Regions from separate parts of the Homo sapiens genome. Here region 2 is linked to region 1. The links come from fine-mapping of genetic effects on gene expression. A gene starts in region 1. The other region holds a variant in brackets. All regions are shown on one strand. Distances are from middle to middle.

Evidence for each region. PIP is the estimated chance that this variant, and not a neighbour inherited with it, causes the effect.
Region 2: its variant is fine-mapped to the expression of DECR2 in lung (TOPMed, PIP above 0.99). The same link has a PIP of 0.9 or more in breast.

What each region holds. Positions count from the first base shown.
Region 1 is chr16:400,818-403,559 of GRCh38, reverse strand. It overlaps DECR2 (2,4-dienoyl-CoA reductase 2), which reads right to left and starts at 1,675. Exons shown (of 9, transcript NM_020664.4): 1 at 1,517-1,675. The coding sequence starts at 1,596. RefSeq lists enhancers at 2,110-2,695, 2,543-2,742.
Region 2 is chr16:423,732-426,479 of GRCh38, reverse strand. It overlaps RAB11FIP3 (RAB11 family interacting protein 3), which reads right to left and starts at 831. Exons shown (of 14, transcript NM_014700.4): 1 at 1-831. The coding sequence starts at 473. The variant C/T (reference allele first, on the strand shown) is at 1,052.

The DNA of each region.
Region 1 (2,742 bases):
AGATAGAGGTTATAATTTCCTCTCTCCTAAGCCCTGCATGGCACTAATATCAAATATGATACCTGAGATTCAGCAAGCTACGTCGGGATAATATGGCTTTTTTATTTATTAGAGATTTTCTTGTACGCATTAAATGTGTACTGATCGGTATGACTGGCACAAACTGTACCAGATGGATGGCAAACTTTTGCTGATCTCCAAGTTGCCTTTCCTATTCTTAATTATTAAAGATTAATTTTGGGCCAGGTGCAGCGTCTCACTCCTGTCATCCCAGCACTTTGGGAGGCCGAGGCAGGTGGATCATCTGAGGTCAGGAGTTCCAGACCAGCCTGACCAACATGGTGACACTCACCTCTACTAGAAATACAATTAGCCCAGCGTGGTATTGTGTGCCTATAGTCCCACTTGGGCGCACTGAGGCTGAAGCAGGAGAATTGGGAGGCTGAGGCAGGAGAATTGCTTCAACCCAGAATGAGACTCCGTTTCGAAAAAAAACTTTTTTTTTTTCCTGCAGAACACTCAGAGAGAATTGTCAATACCTGTCCTTGGAGAACATAATTTAAAACTTGTTTTCTTTTTTTGAGATGGAGTTTCACTCTTGTTGCCCAGTGCAATGGTGCGATCTCGGCTCACTGCAACCTCCACCTCCCGAGTTCAAGTGATTCTCCTGCCTCAGCCTCCCAAGTAGTTGGGATTACAGGTGTGCGCCACCACACCCGGCTAATTTTTTGTATTTTTAGCAGAGACGGGGTTTCACCATGTTGGCCAGGCTGGTCTCGAACTCCTGACCTCTGGTGATCTACCCGCTTCGGCCTCCCAAAGAGCTGGGATTACAGGCGTGAGCCACTGCTCCTGGCAAAAGATCAAAATTTTAATAGAAACTTGAAAATGTTGCCAATTGAAAAAAAGAAAAGGAAAAAAAAAAAAGGATCCGCCCATTAGCCGAGTGAGGGCAGGTGACCGGGGAGGATCGACCTTTGCCCGGGCTGCCTTCTCTTGTGAACACCAAGGCGTTTGCAGGAAAATGAAGAGCTGCTGGGCAAAACCTGGCATTCCTGGGCCTTCTGGGTCTTCCGGAAAAATGATTTCAACCTAAAATTTTCTGTTAAGAAAGAGGCCAGGTTGGGCCGGGCGCGGTGGCTCACGCCTGTAAATCCCAGCACTTTGGGAAGCCGAGGCGGGTGGATCACCTGAGGTCAGGAGTTCGAAAAGAGCCTGACCAACACGGTGACACCCCCTCTCTACTAAAAATAAAAATTAGCCGGGCTGAGGCAGGAGAATCGCTTGAACCCGGGAGGCAGAGTTTGCAGTGAGCGGAGATCGTGCCACTGCACTCCAGCCTGGGCGACACAGCGAGATTCCGTCTCAAAAAAAAAAAAAGAAAGAAAAAAGAAAGAAAGGAGCCAGGCAAGACAGGTTTCCTAACACGCGAGCCCTCGGGGACCACGTGGGGGCGCCGGCGCCCGCGGACCGGACCCCGCACCAAGGCTGCGCTCGCTTCCCAGGCCCCGCTCACCGCAGCAGGTCCGGGCAGAAGAGGTGGCGGTACGCGGGGAGACAGTCGTCCCCCTCCACGTCGGGCGGCGGCTGGGCCATGGCGCTCCCGTCGGGGACTGCGGGGACAACGGGCGGGAGCGGCCTCGGCCTCCAGGACCCGGCGCGCAGCTGCGAACTCGCCTGGAACCGGGAGCCCCGCCCCACTCCCCGGACGCCCCGCCCCTGCCCTGATTGCTTCCCGGAGGCCCCGCCCCTCCCCCGAATTCTCCCCGGAGGCCCCGCCCCCGCCCGCGGCCTGCTGGGACTGGAAGTCGGCGCGCGAGGCGCAGGCGCATTGCGGGGCCGGGGGCGCGGTTCCCGCGGCAGAAGCTCGGCGGTCTGCGGGTCTCCTCCCCGAGTCTTTTTCACAGGTATTCGGCGTCAGCGCCGCGTTCAGAGCCTCCAGGACTTGTGGGATACCCCTGGCTCCTGGGTCCAGGCCAGGCTCGCAGCCTCTGGGCTCCCCGTTCGCCTCCCCGTAAACACCATGGGGAGGGCCGGGGCCCAGGGAAGCGCGGCCAGCCCCGCGCCGCTTCCCAAAATGACCCGTTTTGAGGCCAATAAAGAAGGGTCCGGGGCCGGGCGCGGTGGCTCACGCCTGTAATCCCAACACTTTGGGAGGCCGAGGCGGGCGGATCACGAGGTCAGGAGTTCGAGACCATCCTGGACAACATGGCGAAACCCCCTCTTTACTAAAAATACAAAAATTAGCCGGGCATTGTGGCGGGTGCCTGTAGTTCCATCTACTCGGGAGGCTGAGGCAGGAGAATCGCTTGAACCCGGGAGGCGGAGGTTGCAGTGAGCCGAGATCGCGCCACTGCACTCTATCCTGGGCGACAGAGCGACACTCCGTTTCAAAAACAAAAACAAAAAAAAAAGGGTCCGTTACTTCTGTTCCGCGTGGGGGCCCGGGCGGGGCTATGCCGCGAACCCAGGACGGGGCGCCCCGCCCGCACCACTGTTGGAAGACGGGGGTCCGCGACGGCCACGGGGGAAAAACACGCAGGGCCGCTCCTGAGCTGAACACACCCGCGGGCCAGCGGCTTCAGGGGCGTGACAGAGCCGCCAGCGCTACAGTAATGGCTGCCAGGCCCTTTCTGCGCTGGTTGGCCTCAGCCCGCCGGCCCCTCTCTGCCCCTTCCCCGGGAAGGCAGCTTCTCCTTTGGCGGGATCACAGCACCGGCTCGCGCCTAGCTTGGGTTCTCC
Region 2 (2,748 bases), 23 kb before region 1:
ACCTCGCCCCGCGCTCGGTGGCTGCTGCTGGACCCCTGCAAGCGGAAAGGCGCGCTCTCCGGGCAGCTCGCGGGGCCACACTCCTCGGGCTCCTCAGTCCAGGAGAACAACGGGTCGAGTTCTGGAAGCGGCGCTTCGGAGCGCGGCCCTGGGCCCGGGGCGTCGGGGCTCGCAAGCTGCCCCCGCGGGCCGGAGCGCGGCGGCGGGGCGGACGGCCCGGGGTCTCGCGGGCCTCCCTCCAGCCCCGGGGCCGGCCCGGCGCTCCAACGCGCCCCGCCATCTGCAGCGGCCCCGGGCGCAGGCTCATCCAGGCCCGGGGACTGCGGGTCGGGGCCGCCGACGGGCGCTCCGAGGCGTAGCTCCGCAGGGCCCGGAGCCAGTTGTGCCGCCCCCGGCCCGTCCGGCCCGCCCGGCTCCGGGTCGGGCCCCGGCGGCTCCGAGCCCGGGGGCGAGGCCGGCGGGGCCGACGCCATGCTCCCGAGAGGCTAGTGGTGCGGAAGGGCGCGGGCGGCAGACAAAGGCGCTCAGGGCGCGGCGGCGGGCGCGGGCATCCCCTCGGCGGCGCGGGCGGGCGCGCGCGGGGCGCCCGGGCTGCTGGGGCTGGCGCTCGGGCCCTGCTCTGTCCTCGCCCATCTTCGCACCGCGCCTCAGCTGCCCTCGGCCCGGCGGCGCGGCGGGCGCAGGCCCATGGCGGCGGGGCGGCCTAGGGAGGGCGGCGAGGATCCGGGCGGCGGATGGCGGGGGACGGGGGCCGAGGAGGCCGGGGGACGGGGGCCGAGGAGGCCGGAGGCCGCGGAGCCTGTGAAGCAGGATGAGGAGACTAAGGAGGCTGAGGCGCCTGAGGTACCCGGAGAACTAACGCCGCCGCCGCCCAGGCCCCGCCCCCCGTCGGGCCTGACGTCAGCACGTCCCGGCGGGGTCCCAGCCCCTCGCCGGCTTGCTGTAGAGGCAGGCGCCGGGTGTGTCGCGGCAGTGCAGCGGCCGCGAAGGGGTGTTTTGCTGTATGTCATATTCCTCGTTTCGCCAGAGCGGGGGTCCCGAGCTTCGGGCG[C/T]GGGACGCGGGGGTGCTCCGAGGCTGCGAGTGGAGGCGTGACGTGACGTCCCTGGCAAGAGGCGCGCGGAGTCAGGCCTTACTTAGAACGTGTTCCCGCCGCACAGCTACCAGCGGGCGCGACCGCTACCCACGCATGGTGCGGTCGAGTAAACGGCACCGCCTGGCGAGCGAGAGACGCAAAGGGACATAGCCCCCTAGGAGCTGAGCTCTTCGGGGGTAAAGCGTTCTCACGTTGATGAGACCAGGAGGCGGCGCACGCCTGGCTCCGCGGCCCAGGGGTTGCAGGTGCCCCAGGGTTCGCGGGGCGCAGACGCCGCAGAGGGCGACGCCCTGCCCGGGTCCCGCGCGGACCCGGGGGACGCAGGGTCTGACACGGAGTGCGGAGGGGCCCCAGACACGCAGTCCATGTCCCTTGAAACCAGAGGCACGCGCGGCCACGCGCTAGGCCTTTCCCTTAAGCCTGTGACCAAGATCTCCGGGACTCCCAGCGTTGGGACGGGCGCGCTGGCCCACGCCCAAGCGGGAGGATCGCTTGCGCCCAGGAGATTGAGACCAGCCTGAGCACCAAAGCGAGACCTCGTCTCTACAAAAAATAAGACTCAAGAAGACACCCAGGGTGAATCGCCCGTCTGCAGCCAGCCTCCCGAGCACCGTGGCCGCGTCTGACAACTGACCTCTGTGTCTGGGTGTCCCTGTCCTCAGAGGGACACGGGACCTCAGAAAGGACCACAGCCCGGCGGCAGGCATGATGGTGGGAAAGCTAGTTAGGACAGGTGAGGCACTAAATTTAGCCTGTCATAATTTGTATCAGGGAAATGATGAACTTGTATTTTTACACACCATGGGCACCAACACAAGATATGGTTTCGTAAGCAGCTTTGGCAAGAACCAAAGGAACGGAACCTCTGCTTCCAAGTGTACGGTCAGGAGCAGCGTGTTAATTAAGTGAGTCATCTTCCGTGGCAGAATCCCAGGGTACATGGGACCAGACTTCGCGAGGCTGGCATTAGGAAAAGGAATGTGAGGGATCCTCCTCCCCAAACCGTATTCTCATTTTCTTGTAAGAGCTGTACGTGTTCATGAGGAAGATACTGCATTCAAAGAACGAAATCACCAGCAGCTTTGGCAAGAATTCAAATTTGGGCTGATGCCTTCGGCCGGATAAAATTTTCAGAAGCAGTGATAGTGATGTGTCAACCTTTCTAAATAGGGGTGTTAGTGTGGGCGAGGCAGAGACAGCAGGCTCCCTCTGCTTTTATGTGCCGGCGCTGCCAGAGGCAGAAGGCTGGCTTTCTGAGAGCAGGGGCCCGCACGCTCTGTCTGTGCTAGGGCTGGAAAACGTCCATTGCGTGCCCGGCTGGTGTCCTCCATGGAACCACAGCCTGGAAGCCTGCACCTCCCTGCCTGGACCAGTTAGAGGCTGTTCATGAAAGACTAAAGGGACAAGTTCCCGTCTATCCGTCTGCTGTTCAGAGCTACTATCTGTGTCCCCTTTGTAGGCTGTGGGCTGTAGCAGTTCCTTCTTTTCTTTTCTTTTCTTTTTTTTCCCCGAGACAGGGTTTTGCTCTGTTGCCCAGGCTGCAGTGCAGTGGTGCGACCATAGCTCACGGCAGCCTCAACCTCCTAGGCTCAAGAGATCCTCCCACCTTAGGCCAGGTGTGGTAGCTCATGCCTGTAATCCCAGGACTGTGGGAG